Linked DNA regions of Homo sapiens: all the other regions are reported to be linked to region 1. Evidence: microRNA targets listed by miRTarBase, many of them from high-throughput screens and not tested one by one. Region 1 holds a microRNA gene; each other region holds the end of a gene's coding sequence.

The links. Region 1 holds the annotated microRNA hsa-miR-3195 (CGCGCCGGGCCCGGGUU, at 2,810-2,826, opposite strand). A microRNA usually pairs through its seed, bases 2 to 8, with sites in the 3' UTR of a target mRNA and lowers its output. Matches are read on the target gene's strand: a 7mer-m8 pairs with bases 2 to 8, a 7mer-A1 pairs with bases 2 to 7 and ends in A, and an 8mer does both.
Region 2: miRTarBase lists ISL2 as a target of hsa-miR-3195. The part of its 3' UTR that is shown has no 7-base or 8-base seed match.
Region 3: the mRNA of REPIN1 is a reported target of hsa-miR-3195. The part of its 3' UTR that is shown has no 7-base or 8-base seed match.
Region 4: the mRNA of RHBDD1 is a reported target of hsa-miR-3195. Seed matches in the 3' UTR shown: 7mer-m8 at 2,898-2,904.

The regions. Positions count from the first base shown.
Region 1 is chr20:62,063,162-62,067,637 of GRCh38, reverse strand. MIR3195 (microRNA 3195) reads right to left here and starts at 2,836; the gene lies at 2,753-2,836. TAF4 (TATA-box binding protein associated factor 4) reads left to right here and starts at 1,757. Exons shown (of 15, transcript NM_003185.4): 1 at 1,757-3,187. The coding sequence starts at 1,828. LOC105372705 (a long non-coding RNA gene) reads right to left here and starts at 1,184. Exons shown (of 2, transcript XR_936960.3): 1 at 947-1,184; 2 at 1-696. RefSeq lists enhancers at 468-981, 2,010-2,524, 2,525-3,038, 3,039-3,553, 3,554-4,067 and silencers at 977-1,356, 1,617-1,726, 1,987-2,076.
Region 2 is chr15:76,340,740-76,345,215 of GRCh38, reverse strand. ISL2 (ISL LIM homeobox 2) reads right to left here. Exons shown (of 6, transcript NM_145805.3): 5 at 3,915-4,082; 6 at 2,741-3,497. The coding sequence ends at 3,381. LOC124903532 reads left to right here and starts at 1,792. Exons shown (of 1, transcript XM_047433420.1): 1 at 1,792-2,823. The coding sequence starts at 1,792. The coding sequence ends at 2,436. RefSeq lists an enhancer at 4,323-4,476.
Region 3 is chr7:150,371,919-150,376,394 of GRCh38, forward strand. It overlaps REPIN1 (replication initiator 1), which reads left to right. Exons shown (of 3, transcript NM_001099695.2): 3 at 1-2,121. The coding sequence ends at 1,027. REPIN1-AS1 (REPIN1 antisense RNA 1) reads right to left here and starts at 1,025. Exons shown (of 4, transcript NR_183429.1): 1 at 923-1,025. RefSeq lists enhancers at 1,420-1,539, 1,600-1,749.
Region 4 is chr2:226,994,455-226,998,930 of GRCh38, reverse strand. It overlaps RHBDD1 (rhomboid domain containing 1), which reads right to left. Exons shown (of 9, transcript NM_001167608.3): 9 at 1-3,500. The coding sequence ends at 3,409. It also overlaps a transcript of COL4A4 not described here. Among named protein-coding and RNA genes, the nearest start is that of RHBDD1, 160 kb to the right of the region's middle. RefSeq lists enhancers at 2,973-3,474, 2,654-3,853.

The DNA of each region.
Region 1 (4,476 bases):
TGGGCTGTGCAGTGAGCCTGGTGCGCCCCACCTTGCAAGTTGTGCGTGGGGCCAGTTAGCCTGCCTGTGCTTTGACCTGCTTTAAAAATGTTCTAATTAGTTGTCAACACTCAAAAATTAAAAATCCCGAGATTTAATCATCACTTTATATTTCTGTTCTTTCTGGAAAACTCAGACTGTCCCCCTACTGAGCTCAAGGTGCTCCGTAGGTGTACCCACAGGGGCCCTCCCCGCCATACTCAGCTTGCTTCATTCATTTCCTTTCCTGCCTTCTGGGAGCCAAAGTTCAGGTACAAAACTCCAGCTGTACGTTTGCAGTGATTTCCCCCAAACACTGTTCCCCTATAGGGGAGGCACCTCTCCTAGGCTCCGTCCTCAATGCTCATTGGCTGCTGCTGCTGTCGAGAAACAAGCCTGGGGTGAAGTCCCGTATTCCAGTTATCAGTAAGTCCATTCCTTTGCAAGGCTACAGTTCGAACAGGCACAAGGGTCCAGTTCGGGTCTGCTTTCGAGACTAGCAGTCTCCTTTGTTAAAGCAATTAAAAAAATCATTTTCTTTGTCAGCAACGTCATTCATCGTCCCGAGGTCTCTGCTTATTGCGGCGCTGTCTTCAGCTGCGAAGACTGACCCTGTGGCCTCTTGGCCCCAGTGAGGTCCGAGGCAAGGAAGCGTCTCTCTGAAACCTATTCTGGGCTCTTAGGAAGAAATGAGAGAAAGGAAAACCACTAGAAATGTCCAATAACACCATCTTTTGGTTGGAAAATAAAACACGCAGAAAGAGGGGACTGGAACTTTTACTGAAGTATTTCTAGAGAGAAGGTGCTTGGGAACACTTTAGGTAACTTACTCCCCTCCCCCAGCAGAAGGTAAAAAAAGCTACTTCCAGACGTGCCGGCTTCAGGCTCGGGAACTTCGTTTGGCGCCTGGCAAGCACCGTGCTCTTACCTACGGGCTTATACGACACTCCTGTCTCCAAGGCAGCTGGGTGCGGGGACAGTCAGCCCGGGGCGGCTGGGTTTATTGATTAAAAATGGAGGGAAGGGCCAGGGGTGGTCACGATTGGAGGGCGAGAAGAGCCGTGCGCGCAGGACCCCTCCCCACCGCCCGGGACCGGCTGAGCCAGAGGCGGACCCAGCTTCCCCGCGGCGGCTTGGAGGGGCCGGGCGCCGGTCCCCGTCCCCAGGGCGCGCTGCGACAGTCCCCTCCCCGTTCCCGCCCGCCTCCCAGGCCCATCCACTCCAGGGCCTGCGCGCCGCCCGGCGGCGCCCCGGCATCCCCGCGCGCTGTTCCCCGGGCCTCGGACGGGCCCTGCGCCGCCGCTGCCACCGCGCACGGCGCCCGCCCGGCGCTCCCGTCAGCGCCGCCGCAGCCATTTTGGAGCGAGCCGAGACAAAGAGCGAGGCCCCGTCGCCGCCCCGCGCCCGCCTCGGCCCGGCCCAGCGCACCGTTCCCGCATCCCGCGCCCCGCCCGGCGGCCCCCTCCCCGTCCGCCACCGCCCCGGCGCCCGCGCCCCTGAGCTCCAGCCCCCGCGCTTCCCGCCGCTGCTGCCGCACCCCGGCCGACCGCCCGCGCCCCGGCCTCTAGCGCTCGCAGCCATTGGCCGCGCCTTTTAAGCGCGCGCCGCAGCCAATCGCCGGGCGCCCGCGGTCTCCGCGCCTGCGCAGGGCCGCCACCCCCGCTCCCCCGCCCCCCGGCCGCGCGCCCCCGCCCCCCGCCGGCCGCGCGCCGCCCCCCGCCCGCCCAGCGCCCGCCCCAGTCGGAACCTCCTCCTCGCCCAGGCGCGCTCGGCCCGAGCGGCGGCGGCGGCGGCGGCCGAGGAAAAAAGATGGCGGCGGGCTCGGATCTGCTGGACGAGGTCTTCTTCAACAGCGAGGTGGACGAGAAAGTGGTGAGCGACCTGGTGGGCTCGCTGGAGTCGCAGCTGGCGGCCAGCGCGGCCCACCACCACCACCTCGCGCCGCGCACGCCCGAGGTGCGGGCCGCGGCCGCCGGCGCGCTCGGGAACCATGTTGTGAGCGGCAGCCCGGCCGGAGCCGCGGGCGCAGGGCCGGCCGCCCCCGCCGAGGGCGCGCCCGGAGCGGCGCCGGAGCCGCCCCCCGCAGGTAGAGCGCGGCCGGGGGGCGGGGGGCCGCAGCGCCCGGGCCCCCCCTCACCGCGCCGCCCCCTTGTCCCCGCAGGGCCCGCGCCGCCCGCCGCGAAGCTGAGGCCGCCGCCCGAGGGCAGCGCGGGGTCCTGCGCCCCGGTGCCCGCCGCCGCCGCCGTCGCCGCGGGGCCCGAGCCCGCCCCCGCCGGCCCCGCCAAGCCCGCCGGCCCCGCCGCGCTGGCCGCCCGCGCCGGCCCCGGCCCCGGGCCCGGCCCCGGCCCCGGCCCCGGCCCTGGCCCTGGCAAGCCCGCCGGCCCCGGCGCCGCGCAAACTTTGAATGGGAGCGCCGCGCTGCTGAACTCGCACCACGCCGCCGCACCTGCTGTCAGCCTGGTCAACAACGGGCCCGCCGCGCTGCTGCCGCTGCCCAAGCCCGCCGCCCCCGGCACTGTCATCCAGACGCCCCCCTTCGTGGGCGCCGCCGCGCCCCCCGCGCCCGCCGCGCCCTCGCCCCCCGCCGCCCCCGCGCCCGCCGCCCCCGCCGCCGCCCCGCCCCCGCCACCCCCCGCGCCCGCCACTCTGGCCCGGCCGCCCGGCCACCCCGCCGGACCCCCGACCGCCGCGCCCGCCGTGCCGCCCCCCGCCGCCGCCCAGAACGGGGGCAGCGCCGGGGCAGCCCCCGCCCCCGCCCCGGCCGCCGGGGGCCCCGCGGGGGTCAGCGGCCAACCCGGGCCCGGCGCGGCGGCTGCGGCGCCGGCGCCGGGGGTCAAGGCCGAGTCGCCCAAGAGGGTGGTGCAGGCGGCGCCCCCGGCGGCGCAGACCCTGGCGGCCAGCGGCCCGGCCAGCACGGCGGCCAGCATGGTCATCGGGCCAACTATGCAAGGGGCGCTGCCCAGCCCGGCCGCCGTCCCGCCGCCCGCCCCCGGGACCCCCACCGGGCTGCCCAAAGGCGCGGCCGGCGCAGTGACCCAGAGCCTGTCCCGGACGCCCACGGCCACCACCAGCGGGATTCGGGCCACCCTGACGCCCACCGTGCTGGCCCCCCGCTTGCCGCAGCCGCCTCAGAACCCGACCAACATCCAGAACTTCCAGCTGCCCCCAGGTGAGTGGCCGCACGGGGCGGGAGGGAAGGGCGGCTCCCAGCAGCGCCAGCTGCCAGTTCCAGGAAGTTCTCCGCTGGTGGAATGCTAAGGTCATCTGTCCCGTAGGCCCGTGGCTGGAGCAGGCCGAGGGGCAGTCTCTACCCAGGTGCGGGGCCAGCCCGGGTGGCTGTCTGCGAGTGAGCCAGAGGGAGTCGGCATAGCCTGCGTCCCTGTCGCTGTCCCTGACGTCCGCGCTGGCTGCCTGTGCCTGGGGCTGGTCTGTTTCGGAGTGGCTCAGCCAGGACTCTTAGTGGAGTGGTCCTTACCTGCTCCCGCCCTATGCGTCCCTGCCCGGGTTGGTAGGCTCAGCGCAGGGGCTCCCTGGGCCAGGCGATGGGGTCTGCAGAGCTGAGGGCAGTACCTGGGGCTGTGAGTGGCAGCAGCTGTCCCCTGCTCAGTTCTGCAGTTAGGCGTGTGGCCTGTGTCCCCACTTAGCCTTTCTGCCCCTTGGTGACCCTGGGCTCGAGCCTCTTCAGTCTCCAGGCGAGGACGGGGGCGCGACGCCCCCTCCTTGAGGCTCGGGAACTCTGGATGGAAGGCTTGGGCTCCTCTGCTGCCACCAGGCAGGGAGAGATGTCAGGCGCATCCTGCGAGAGTCCTCCCGGCGCGCAGCCTTGCTGAGAGCCACGCTGTGGAGTAGGGTTTCAGCACCGTGTGTGTCACTGTCTCTTCCAGAGCTGCGTTGGTGCCTAAAGGAAGGAGCGCCTAGCTACTCTGGTTGCTGCCCCCTCGGGAGGGCAGTGGGAGGGCGGTGGCAGCAGATGTTCTCGCTCCGTGCAGGGGTCTCGGGGCGATACTGGCTATGCTGCGGATGCCTGGGGCTCCGACGCCACTTCCGCCTGGCAGTTCTCACGCTCCTGTCTAGTCTGCTGTCTCTGCGACTCCTCAGGGCCCCTCAAGTTTGACAGGAAAGATTGCCTGGCCAGCATTGCTGCTTTTGTCTGGGGCTCCCCGTCCCTCCCCAGCCGCCGTGGTGGGTGCTGGGCAGGGGAGCTCCTCCCCGGCCTGTGGTGACGCGTGCCGTGCAGTTGTAGCAGCGCGGTGGCAGCAGTAGTAGGAACTGCAAGGAGAGCGTGGGTCCCTCCTGCGTCCCCTCTCTGAATGGAGCTATTGGTCACTTTGACAGGGTTGCAGAATCTTCAGAAGTGAAAGGATTTCTTGTCCAAGTATGTGAGGTTCGGGGCTGGTGGTCAGACTCTGGACAGGGCAGGGGTGGGGAAAGCCTGTCTGGGCGGCTGCTAGGCTGCAG
Region 2 (4,476 bases), not on the chromosome of region 1:
TATTCCATATTCAAAACACAAAGCCTGATTTCTGTTCCACAATCCATTAAATATTAAAGTTTGTTGGGAATACTGCCACAGGGACTCTGAATTTCCCAGAATTATGCAGTCTTTCAATATGTATTAAATTTTGTGTAAAAACTTATAGCCATAAACTGTCTATCTCTGGGAATCCCTTTCCTTCCTCAATTGCATAGAGCTATCCAAATTAATAGTTAAGTCTTCTGAGAAAATCGTATTCTAAAGTGAATCTAGCTAAATAACTCCCACTTTCCACCTATGGCCTCTTTTATTGAATTTTTTACTATGCAATTGGGTATCTCATATTAAAAGTTCAGTAAGTATAAAATACAACACTTGTCATTGTTACAGGTAATTTAATTTATGGGGAAATCCCTACTGTATTACAAAAGATGTTTAAAGATGACTTGGGAACCCGTAAAACTGATATTTATTAATGTAACTAACCAAGCGTAGATGTGACACCTCACTAGGGACCACTGTAATAAGGCTTCAGAGTTGAATCCTTTCCCTGGAAACCCACATAGAAAACGATGCACCCCTTTGGGTGGGTAGCAACTATGGAAGAGAAAAGCTTGTAATGTTTTGTACAGTGATACAGAGAGATGCAGGAATCTTAACACACAATAACCACTTTTATCTAGGTAACTTCCCAATATTCAAAAAAGACAGACACAATCATATAAATAACAAAAAGAGGAATTTGATTTTTGATTCATGGATGATGAGGAAAGAGATAACTAATTAGATGTTGAGATAACTAATGTAGACGTTTCCATTCATAGCGTTAAAACGCTGCAATCTGTCAAAAGCAAAAATTCAGAGCTAATTAACCATTAATGAAATTCTTTATTCAATAACCTGTTATTTCCTTTTTAAAAAAAATGAGAAAACCCAAATATTCTGGATAAATCAAAAGTTTTTGACAGTGAGATTTATTCGAAGTTTTAGCCCCCTATCTAATGGCCAGCCAGAAGGTAAAAGGAGAAATCTGTATTTCTGTTGGGAAGGAATGGTCTAAGTTAAAGAAAGGAAGCCTCAAAGAACCCAGACCTGATTATTAAAGCCATTTCTGGGCACTTGAGAGGTAAAGCTGGTCCTCATTAACTCTGCATATCTCTTCCCTTATCTCTAAGTTTGCAGCAGCATTTCCTATATCCCAAAGAAGGGGAATGTTCCCTTTAATATTTGTGCCAGCATCACCTTGACATTCAGGAAGTAAAATATAAATGCAGCTCCATTTTCCCACCTCCCATTTTCTTTCAGTAATTGCCAGCAAGCCTTCCATCATCTGCAAGTGGGGTGGGGGCAGTGTGAAGGAATTCTGCTAAAAGCGCTGCTGAAAAACCCACAGTGGCCTTTGGCCATCCAAGCAGCCATGGCTAACAGAAGGCACCTACTTTTCTATCTGAAGACTACAGGGCCCCCCAGACACGTTTTCCTTGCCAGCCCCTACCTAAGCTAAGATGGCAACTATCCCCTACCCAGTTAGGGCGTTGCCCACTTTCAAAACAAACCTTGGACAAAGAAGGATATGCTTGTGGGTCGCTTAACTCGAGGGACAGGGAAACGACAACTCAACGCCAGATGTTCTTACAACAGCGGTGGACTAACTGGTAGTCGGGAAGCTCCCTCAGTCCACTAAGTGAAGGCTGGTCTTGGAAAAGAACTGTCCCAGGCTGCCAAAGGGTTAAATATTTGTAAAGAGTAAAACCTGAGCCTCCGTGGGTTTTTTTTCTTTCTTTCTTTTGGGGTTTTTTGTTTTTGTGTATGCGCGGTTGCCCGGAGGCCTACTGGAGATTCAGTATCTCTCGGTTATTTCCTGCGATCACTAAAGCCAGTTTTCAAGAAAACAAGTCGCAGGGGTTTGAAATGTCACACCAAGTGACCTGGGCACGGCATATCCAGGGGCCATTCCCAGCTCCCTCCCACCCGGGCCACCCCCGACCCCCTCCACTTCGGTCTGGAAAGAAAATAAACCAAGGACACGCCAGACTGGTTCTGGGTGGACTTATTTTCCCGGCAGCCGCGCTCCTAGCGGGGGCTCGTTGCGGCCCCTCGGTGTATCGCTTGCAGGTGATGCCAAACGCAGATAAGCAGCCGCCGCCCGGCCCCCGCCTCTGTCTAGACTGTGGAATTAATAAATGCCGCGGATTGATCACGTCGCGCATCCACTCCGGGGACAGCGCGGGGCACGGCCCGTCACGGCCGCCCGCTCTGGCCGGGGTTGGCCTCACTGCTGTGCTGCAGGGCCAGGGGCAGCGCGCGGGGCTTCGAGCCTCACCCAGGGCCGCGGACCGCTGGGGAAGGAAGCGCCGGGAGGGCCCGCGGCGCCGAGCGAGAGTGGGGCTCGGGGCTCGGCAGGCGCCAGGCCAAGGCTGGTTCCGGGAGCGGGGCGCGCCCTCGCCCGCATAACCCTAGGCCGGAGTCCGCCGCTCAACCGCCACAAGTGCCGCAGGTTTCCCGCCCAAACGGGTCCCGCCTCCTGCCCGCGGGCCTGGGCCGCCAGGTGCCCAGGGGTCGCCAATGGGGCGCTCCTGCTTCTGGGAGGGCCCTCAGCGCGCATGCGCCCAGCCCCACCCCCTCGGCCGCGCCCAATCCCCACCGGGCCCGCCCCGCCCGCAGCACGCGGAGCCCCGGCAGCCGACGCCAGCCTGACCCCTGAACTGGCCTCCGCCGGCCCTCCCGCCGCGCCAACAGCACAGAGGAGTGGCGTCGCCCCGGGTTATTATTTTTTATTAAGATCAAAATACAAGTCCCACTATGAACTGGCTGTTCTCACAATAAATAACAATAACTTACGTTTGTTTGTTCGGCAAAGGCTCACATACTCTGTCCTCCGTCGAATAACTTAAACACTTTCAAGGCAAGTCTGGTTTCTACTGTTTCCCAGCAATCATGCGCTTTGGGAGTTTGAGTGTCTGTTCCTCTGAGTTATCCCCTTCCTTTTCCCCGCTAGGAGCCCGGGCGAAGCCGCCAGGGAGCGCTGAGCTGGGGCAGGGCGGGGGTCCGCGTGGGCGAGCTCCGGGCCGGCCGAGATGGGGACACAGGTGGGGCGTGGAGAGACAGAGCGGCGGCCACGTAGAGAGGAGAGGAGAGGGCAGAGCTAACCCTGGTAAGTCCCAGATTCTGGTTTTGAAAAACTAAGAGTCCTCGGAGCAGGGGTCTGCAGTCTGGTGAAAGCAGGTTGCATCCTGGCGCCTTGGGCTGTCCAGACCGTGTCTCTCGGTACTCTCTCATAAATAACAATAGAATAATTACGAAGGCGAGAGAGCTTTCGGAACTGGAATGGCCTGAGCATGGGTGAGTCTCATGCAGGGAGCATGCGAGGTCCGCGGGCTGGCAGGGAGGGGTCCCCCTCACGTCTCCACGGGACTCGGCACCATACTGTTGGGGGTGTCCGGGAGCTGCGAGGACAGGGAGGTCACGTCGCTGCCGGAGGAGTTGCCTAGGGAGCCGGACTCGGAGAAGGAGACCTGGGGCGGCGGAAACACCGGGAAGAGGCAGGTGAAGAGGCACGCGAGCTGGTGCTCCAGGGCCGCGTGCTCCGAGTCGGAAAGTGTCCCTTGGGGACCGGCCGCCAGCTGAGAGCAAGCCCTGCGGAGAAGGAGGCCAGGTCCCCAGGCGCACGAGGGGGGGATTAGGGCGGGGGAGCGGGTTGGTTAATCCTGCGACCTCTCTTGTGAGCACTTTAATCCAGGGAGACCTGGTTTAGGGCGCGTAATGGGCCGAGGTGAGGTTTCAGAGCCCGCCACTGTTCCCCCTCCCCCACCGCCTAGGGCTGTACCCAGCCCCTCAGCCCAAGGCCACCCCCTCCCCTCTCTGCCAGGCTAAGTGGCTAAATCCCCAACCCGCAGAGTCCCGAGGTCGGGGCGGGTAGGGCAGGGCCTCACCAGCTGTTGGAAGGCGGGTTGGTCCAGGTCGCTCTGGAGGGCAAACTCGCTGAGCGCCTTCCACGGCGGCTGGTACGTCTGCACCTCCACTGCGCTGCCCTGCACGGCGTTCTCATGGCGGATGGGACTGCCCGCCACCAGGGGCGTCCCAGTCAGTCCCTGAAGGCTCTGCGGGGCAAGCAGAAGGCAGTAGGTGCTCGAGTTAGGTCTGGCCTTTTCTGCCACCTTTGAGACTGGAGCTCCAGGCCTTGAGTGATTTAGGGTCTGCATTGCTTTGCGGGGAGGCGCACACTCGATCGCATCGGAAGAGCCCTCTTTCTCCACTGGGGATCTGCGGGGGCCGCAAACTTGCCACGATAGGTCAGCCTCGGTGCTGGAAGCCAACCGCCCGGTGAGGAAAGGCAAGACCTGCACTCCCACCTTTCTGCAGCTGCCGACGGAGTGCACAACCCACCAGCCCGACTGGCGGGCGCTGCACACTGCCATGCAGCCTTGGGCTCCGCGCAGCGCCCGGAACCCGCAACGCGGGGCTGCCACTGGGACAAGGAGAAACCCCGATCCC
Region 3 (4,476 bases), not on the chromosome of region 1:
GCCCGGTGGAGATGCCGTCGACCGCCCCTTCCAGTGTGCCTGTTGTGGCAAGCGCTTCCGGCACAAGCCCAACTTGATCGCTCACCGCCGCGTGCACACGGGCGAGCGGCCCCACCAGTGCCCCGAGTGCGGGAAGCGCTTTACCAATAAGCCCTATCTGACTTCGCACCGGCGCATCCACACCGGCGAGAAGCCCTACCCGTGCAAAGAGTGCGGCCGCCGCTTCCGGCACAAACCCAACCTGCTGTCTCACAGCAAGATTCACAAGCGATCCGAGGGGTCGGCCCAGGCCGCCCCCGGCCCGGGGAGCCCCCAGCTGCCAGCCGGCCCCCAGGAGTCCGCGGCCGAGCCCACCCCGGCGGTACCTCTGAAACCGGCCCAGGAGCCGCCGCCAGGGGCCCCGCCAGAGCACCCGCAGGACCCGATCGAAGCCCCCCCCTCCCTCTACAGCTGCGACGACTGCGGCAGGAGCTTCCGGCTGGAGCGCTTCCTGCGGGCCCACCAGCGGCAGCACACCGGGGAGCGGCCCTTCACCTGCGCCGAGTGCGGGAAGAACTTCGGCAAGAAGACGCACCTGGTGGCGCACTCGCGCGTGCACTCCGGCGAGCGGCCCTTCGCCTGCGAGGAGTGCGGCCGCCGCTTCTCCCAGGGCAGCCATCTGGCGGCGCATCGGCGCGACCACGCCCCCGATCGGCCCTTCGTGTGTCCCGACTGCGGCAAGGCCTTCCGCCACAAACCCTACCTGGCGGCGCACCGGCGCATCCACACCGGCGAGAAGCCCTACGTCTGCCCCGACTGCGGCAAAGCCTTCAGCCAGAAGTCCAACCTGGTGTCGCACCGGCGCATCCACACGGGCGAGCGGCCCTACGCCTGTCCCGACTGCGACCGCAGCTTCAGCCAGAAGTCCAACCTCATCACCCACCGCAAGAGCCACATCCGGGACGGCGCCTTCTGCTGTGCCATCTGTGGCCAGACCTTCGACGACGAGGAGAGACTCCTGGCCCACCAGAAGAAGCACGATGTCTGAGACGGTGGGCGGGGCCGTGTTGGCTGAGAGAGGGCTGGGGTCCTTCGTGGTGGGAGTCGCAGTGGGCTGGGGGTGCCTGCCTAGTGCTGGAGTAGGGGACAATGGGAATCCTAGAGGGGATGGAAGACGCGGGGAGTGAGCTGGGTGGGCCCTGCTAGCGAGAGAGGTCAACCCCGGTGGCCAGGGAACCCACTTCCAAGCGCAGGGACGCCGGCCTCCAGCTGGTGTGTGCTAAGGCTCCGTCCTGACTGCCCTGTGCCCTGGAAAAGCAGCAATAGCATCCGCCCCTTAGAGCCCTCTGGCTAGAGGAGCCACCAGTGGAAAGGAAGACCCTCCATCCTCTGGTATTAACGCCTTAATGCCCCTGTCTTTTACTGTAAGTTACTTAAGATCATTTTTGGAAGCAGGCGTGGTAGAGTCCTGTAAATGAATGCTCTGGGCTAGATACAGCTTGGAGAACCTGCTGGCCTTGTTAGACAGCACTTGGGCCTTTGCCAGCAGCAAGAGGTGAAGCGAAGCCACTCTTACCTCTCCCTTCCCCTCCCACCTGCCCCCTGCGTAGGCACCCAGACTTGGAGAGACCCGTCTGCTGTTAATACTTCCATCCTCTTCCTTCCCAAAGAGCAGATCCCAAGGCATTTACTCCTTGGTCTGTCTCGCTTTATCTGTCGCCCCTCCCAGCGCTGAGAGCCTCCCCTGGCTGTCAGCAGCACTGTGTCCAGGCTCTTGTCTGAACACCGCAGCCCCTCCTTCGCTCCTTCCAGAGCTCAGCATGTCACGGCAAGGACTGCCGCATTGGTGATGGAGGGCCAGCTGAGGGGAAGTTGCTGGTGAGTTTCCTTTTCTCCATTTCTAGCATATGGACACCTGGCCTCTGCTTGAGCACTTAGGTGACAGGAACTTCCGCACCTCCTGAGGCCCTGGATGATTCTAATTGTTAGAAATTCTAATTGTTAGAAATCCTTCCTTATAATGAATGAATTCTGCTTTCCTATAATTTCTACCTATTGGGCCTTGTTCTGTTCTCTGGAACTAAACAGAACAACCATTTACCCCTCCTTTTCAAACTAGAGAATAAAGATTTGGTTTTAGAACTGGTGGCTGGGGAGTGTTACTTTTTCTGGGGGAGCTGCGACATGTCAGGAGGAGCAGCATGCTCTCCTCCCTAGAAGGACGGGGGGCTGTGGGTGGGGCTCTGGCCACAGGCCACATGCCCAGCTTGCTGAGCTCTGGCCCCCTGCCTCAGTTCTTCCCTGAGCATACCCAGGCAGTTGGGCTAATTCTCTGGGTGGTGGGCCGAAGCTCCAGAGAACTGTGGTGGGTGGAATGCTCTCAGCTTGGTCCCAAGATTTATGTTCTTGGTCACTTGCCCTCCTAGATGGGCCCAGCAACACCTAATCTTTCTCACCACCTGGGCCTTTATGAAACTACAGCAAGCACTATGAGCTCTTTTGAGGGGTGCTGGGTGTTAAACGGACTTTGGTTATACTTGGACTGTGCCTCCAGTAGTCCTTCAGAGGTTGGACAGATGAAGGAGCCTCTGGGAGGGGAGGCTGTTCCCTGCAGCTAAGACAGCACTCAGCTTCCACACTCCACACACCAGGGTTTCAGCCTTCTTTGAGGTTGTTGTCAAACCCAGCCTGGGTCCACTTGCCCAGTGTTTGCAAAGCCTAACACCGACAGTGAGATTTGCAGCCAGAGAAAGTAAGGCGTTTATTGCAGAGCACCAGGCGAGGAGAATGGGCAGCTAAGGCTCAAACTCCCTGATGGCTTTTAAGCAAGGGTTTTTAAGGCAGGGGTGGGGAGGTTTCAAAGGGAGTTAGGGGCTGAGGAATTTCTGGAACTTCCTTATCCATTTTCTGGTTCCAGTCTGTCTGAGGTCTACGTGCTGGCATTGTCACGTGGTGACATTGGTGGGGGTCCTGGCTCCTGAAAAACAACTCAAGGATATATGTCAAGATGTTATCTTTAGGCCAGGCATGGTGGCTCATGCCTGTAATCCCGGCACTTTGGGAGGCCGAGGTGGGTGGATCACCTGAGGTCAGGAGTTCAAGACCAGCCTGGCCAACATGGTGAAACCCCATCTCTACTAAAAATACAAAATTAGCTGGGTGTGGTGGCGGGCCCCTGTAGTCCCAGCTACTAGGGAGGCTGAAGCAGGAGAATTGCTTGAACCTGGGAGGCGGAGGTTGCAATGAGCTGAGATCGTGCCACTGCATTCCAGCCTGGGCAACAGAGTAAGACTTTGTCTCAAAACAAACAAACAACCCAAAAAACAAAACAAACAAAAAGATGTTATCTTTAGTTTCTATGAGGAAGCTAACATTCTGTGACTACTACTTGAGTGACTATTGTTTAAGCTATTATTACTTTCTTGCTTAGCGGGTTATTCATTCATTTCCCCAATTCATGGTTGTAGAGCTAGCTAGGTGCCTGGAATTTCCCTGGGAGGGACTCACATTTTTGTTTATTCTCATGCTTTTCAAGTGATGGGCAGAACCCAGCAGGCTCCTAAGTGGAGTCTCTGAGGCTGGGCGTGGTGGCTCACGCCTGTAATCCCAGCACTTTGGGAGGCCGAGGCAGGTGGATCACCTGAGGTTAGGAGTTTGAGACCAGCCTGACCAACATGGAGAAACCCTGTCTCTACTAAAAATACAAAATTAGCCGGGCATGGTGGTGCATGCCTGTAATCCCAGCTACTCGGCAGGCTGAGGCAGGAGAATCACTTGAACCCAGGAGGCAGAAGTTGCAGTGAGCCGAGATCGCGCCATGGCACCCCAGCCTGGGCAACAACTCTGTCTCAAAAAATAAAAATAAAAAAAAATTAAAAAAGAGGGTCTCTGCTCCATCTCAAGGTCAGGTCAGACTTTTCAGGTGCTAGTTGCTAGGCAGGAAAGGGGGCTGATTTGATTCTGTCCTACAGTGTCCCTGGCCGGCCTGCTGTAGGACTCCAGATTTCTGTGAGCAGTCACTCTGTATGCGTCCCTGAATTGGTGGTTTCATACAAATTTGAGTACCTCTTTTTACCAGGCATTAATAGTTCTTTTCTTGCCTGTGTTAGCAATTTCTGCATATATCTCCAGCATTTAGCACAGAGCACATAAGAATAACCACAATTTGTTGACGTGAGTGGCACCTGGTGAAGTTTACCTAAATTATCTCATGTGTCCTTGTGTGGGAGGTAGTCTTCTTTTATACATGAAAACATTTGCCCACAGTCATATAACTGGTAATCACCAGAGGCAGATTCAAATTCAAGTCTGTCTGACTCCTGAAACCTGTGCTCTTGACAACCGCTGTGTGCTTAGTGGATGAACGCTGCGTGCTGCTGTTTTTGGTTAAGTATTAAATGCCAACTGTGTGGGTGGGGCTTAAAGTGTGTAGGATGGAAAGAACAGCTTCAAAGCTTCATATTGGTTTATGGGGTTATGGAGCCACTTAAAAACCTG
Region 4 (4,476 bases), not on the chromosome of region 1:
ACAGCACAGAATGTCACAAGATCAGGAACACTCACAGCCTGAGCAGTGAGACTAGTTACCAGCCTCTGTGATGGATAAATGGGGCTGAGGTCCAAAGGCTGGTTGAAGCCCACTGTTGAGGCTAATGACTTTGACCTTTATCCTTTGGCAGCAGAGAGCCAATGAAAGGTATTTGAGATGCTGAGTGGCATCATGAAAGTGAATTTTGGAAGACTAAGCTGGAGTTATGTAGAATTGAGTGAGGAGGTATTGTTAAGTATTGAACAGAGCAAATAATTGAGATACTGTGACTCTCTAAGCTGAGAGTCTGTGATTCTAAAATAAAATACTAGCAGCCATGAAAAAAAAAGAGAAGAAACTTAGGGAATGACTGCAATGATTCATGGGAAGGGAAAGGAAGAAGTTATATATATATTTTTTGACTAATTGAATGCTATTCTTTACTGAATACTGAATCTCTCAAGAAAAACTAAGACTGGGAACAAGGAGGCCAGGTCTGCCAGCTACCCCATTCTCGCCCTGCCTTGCAGTGCAATTTCCAGGGTAGGGGGAGGTGGTCTTTCTCATCCCTTTAGCTTGCTTACTCCCCAGGCAGCAGAACATGTGCCAAATAGATAGACAGGATCTAGTTCTACTCAAACTAGTTATTTACTGCAGCAGGCAATTTAAAAGGATGGAGGAGGTCTGAACAATTATGTACAACTTTGGAATCACAGGCAATACATTCAGAGTCATTAAGAGGAAGCAATTTTAACTACTGCCTCCTCTTCAGAACCAAGTAAAGATTCTGCATTAAAAGGTCGCTTAAGTTGACTGACCACACCAAACTGTGGGAACCAGGGGCTTAACAGACAATCAGGGAGCTACTAATAAATAAACCAAATTAAAAAATTAGCTCTAAGTGCTTATTCCCTACTAGAGATAATTAGTCTAATACACTTGCTCACTTGCTTTTGTCTTTCTCAATCCAATTCCAGTTTGTTGGCATAACTTTAGGGATTCCTTATTGTAGAGGAAAATAAAATAAAATGGACATTCCAAACATAAGCACTTGTTACAGGCAAGTCCATTAACTAAAATAATTATAATAATTTCCAGAACATCTTTATTGTTGTGCTAAAGTAATTGGTTTACATTTATAACTAAAATGACCTTTCTCACATCACTAAGATGTTCCACTCCATCAACAGCCATGCGTATCACAATTTTACCACCCAAAATCTAATCCCGTGTCTTTGTATCTGACAAGTCAAACAGAGCAAGGAAGTACTACTAGTGGACTCAAGTGATATAAAAAAATAAAAAATAAAATACTTCCATATACAGTGACTGGACTCTTAATACAATGGAAAAAATACTTTGGTGAAACACTGACATTTAGTGAGCCCCTATCGTGAGCCTTTGGGGTTGGAAAGGGGAGACGGGGAGTGAGTGGAAAGATAACTAAGACTCAGGCCTCATTACAGAGTCATTCACAATCCATGTTCCCACGTAGAAGGCACACCTTTGTGTAGCTGTGCACAGTTAATAATAGGGGCAAGATGTGTTATAGCAGAATTACCAAATGCTATAAAAGTGGCATGAAACAAAGAAGTTACTTCTAATTGGGGTAACGGGAGTCAAACTTACAGAATTTGGGAGAGAGCAGTAACATTTAGCTTGAATATTTTAATTTAAACACATTTAAAGCTTCTAGACTCACAGGTACAATTTATATTATAAAGAAGATGTAGTTTTATATCAGTTATAAATTAACCAAAGGAGCTCAGATATTACTGGGCCAGCCAGGAGGCCAAAGAGCTCCCAAGGCTCCAGTGGTTTTCTTAGCTCATTTCCATGCAGGTGTCAAGGCCTCTTCCAGGTAAATTCAGATTGGATTTGGACACAAAACTCCATGGTCAATGTGCTCCAAATTTGCTGAATGTATCAACGGAAAAATTGATAAGACAATACCACCAAAATGTTAACCCTGGGTACCTCTAAGGGTAGGGCTACAGGTGACTTTAAAATTGTGTATGTATTTATTTGTATTTCTGTTTATATTGTGAATTTTCTCAATGGACACATAGTATTTATTTTTAAGTCTGTTTTCTTGACTATATGTTATTAAATATGTTTTCCTGATTGTAAAAGTAACACACACACATAAACACATCTTCCAAGACAGTAATATAAAATTATAAAAATGAAGAAAGCAAAATCCCATGTACTCCACTCCCAAAGATAACCCCTGCTAAGATTTGGGTATATTTCTTTCCAGATGTTTGCCTTATGCATCTGGAAGGCATATCTATTATGTGCATAATCAGAAAACTATATAAGTTGTAGATCAAAAAAGGAAGATCTTTTCCTGCTTCTCTCTTTTAAAATATCTCTGTTGACAGTAAGACATCAGTGATCTTCTGACTTTGTCCTTTTATTCATGGAACACAAGCACCAGGAAATGCCTTAAACGACTCAGACAGACAATCTGTGGATTGTAACGTGGCGGGGCCCAAGGGCGTGTTTTGGACATTTGGCTAGGACAAGTGGCTGGTACAATGGCCAATTAAGAGGCACTTTTATGAGGAAAAACATACTTTCTGCAAGATAGATCTCTAGTGACCGATCCACCAAATGCCTTCGCTCTACTCTGTATGTGGCATCTGCTGCTACTTTGCTGATGCGTTAAATGATGTCCTATCTCCTGGACACACAAGCTGCCACTGGGAAGGGGCTGGGAACCTACATTGCTGGTGTCACTGATACTAATGGTGTGTGTAGGAGTCTTCCCCACCTTAGGTCTTTCTTACACTTCTTCAATAAGACTTTCTATAAAGGCAGAGCAATACCAGAGCAGAGCGAAAGCCCTGCAAACACCAGCCAGACGCAGGGGCCCGAGGAGCTGAGGAGCTGAGGCGCCGGGGTTGGGGAGAGTAGGACAACATTCGGCCAAGGCAGCCACATCCTGTTCCTGGACAGCCACAGTGGCAATGCGCCAGGAGGACGCGGGGATGGCTCCACACCCGCTGCCAAGTCAAACACGGGGCACTCCAGGCAGAATGAGGGACTAATCTTCCCGACTGGTGTAAGTAAAACCTCCTGGTGAAGGTCACAGTCTTCAAAAGCAGACCGAGGCAGAGGCATCGCTGAGTCAGCAGTGAGAGATGGGAGCGTGGAAACTGGTCTCTTCATGGAGGAAGTGACCTGTTTATGAGCAAGAACAAGGCCAGGAGAAGGCCCACTCCCCGCAAGCTGTGAGTTGACTCATAGGGGCCATGGGACTGTCCCAGGTGATGTGAGCGATCTGGAGCAATACCGGTGTACTCTGCTTTTGTTTAAAATGAATTAAAATGAATTAGGGGCTTGGGGAATGAGCCAAATGGGCAATAATTACACGAATAGGCCATGTCTTCCCAAGATGCCACCTCACTGGCTATCGAATCTGTGAAGCCGCTGTCTCCTCATTTCTTCTGGTGAGAGATGAAACCCGTAGGGTGGTGGGCTATTTCTGGTATTTCCTGTAGTGAGAAAGCCAAAGGAAAAATCAATCATTCTGACGTGACAAGGCATGTGTACCCTAGGATTCCAAGGGAACAAAGTGATAGCTTGGGTGTCATCTTCATTTTAACACAAAACAGAAATATAACAAAGATTTTTCAACTTCAGCTGTCAGTACTAAATTTCAACGTCAAGTAAATATTTTTAGAGTGGTTCAGCCATGAATCTGATTTGACTCATTTTGAGGCTTCTTGATAATCTTCCCACTTGTATTTTTCCTTCCATCGTGCTCCATAATTTGCATCATTTAGGCTTACACAGTATCTCAAGGGCTTATTGTCTTTTTTTTTTTATGCCCATATATAACTTGTTGCCACCTTTACTAACTTCCCCACCAACTAGGCTGGTTTGGCTTCTTCTGATCAGCCTTTGGGTGCTCCTTTTCTTCCCTCTAATGTGCCGCCTCCTGCCCCAATGTGGCCAATAAGAATCATGCGTGATTGAAACACACAAGCAACCACTGGAGCAGAGTTACCATACTGATCAATATCTGGGCAGGTAAACAAAGATGTAGGCATCATATTTCAAGATCATATGAAGGACTGTGGAAATCGTTACTGAAAAGAGTTTCTTAGGGATGCAAACTTACCAAAAACACAGTTTGTAATGATACAAGAATTTCAATCACTACATAAGAAAGCATTCTCCCAGGCATCATGAGTAGTAATAAAGGGAGAAAAATACATAGTCCTTGATCTCAAGGAACCAGCAACCTAAAGGTAATGAAAGAGCTTCAATATTCCCCATGAGGAAACCAGGAAGACACATCACTGATAGATACGGGTAAGTAGAGGTTTACTTCTAAGCATGGGGACCAAAAAGGCTGTACCTTTTCACTACTATAGCTCTGCTAACCTTGGTAATTTGCACTGAAAGGCTCTCTCCCATCACCTACATCAACCAGAAGTCTTACTCACTCTTGTAATGCTAGGTCAA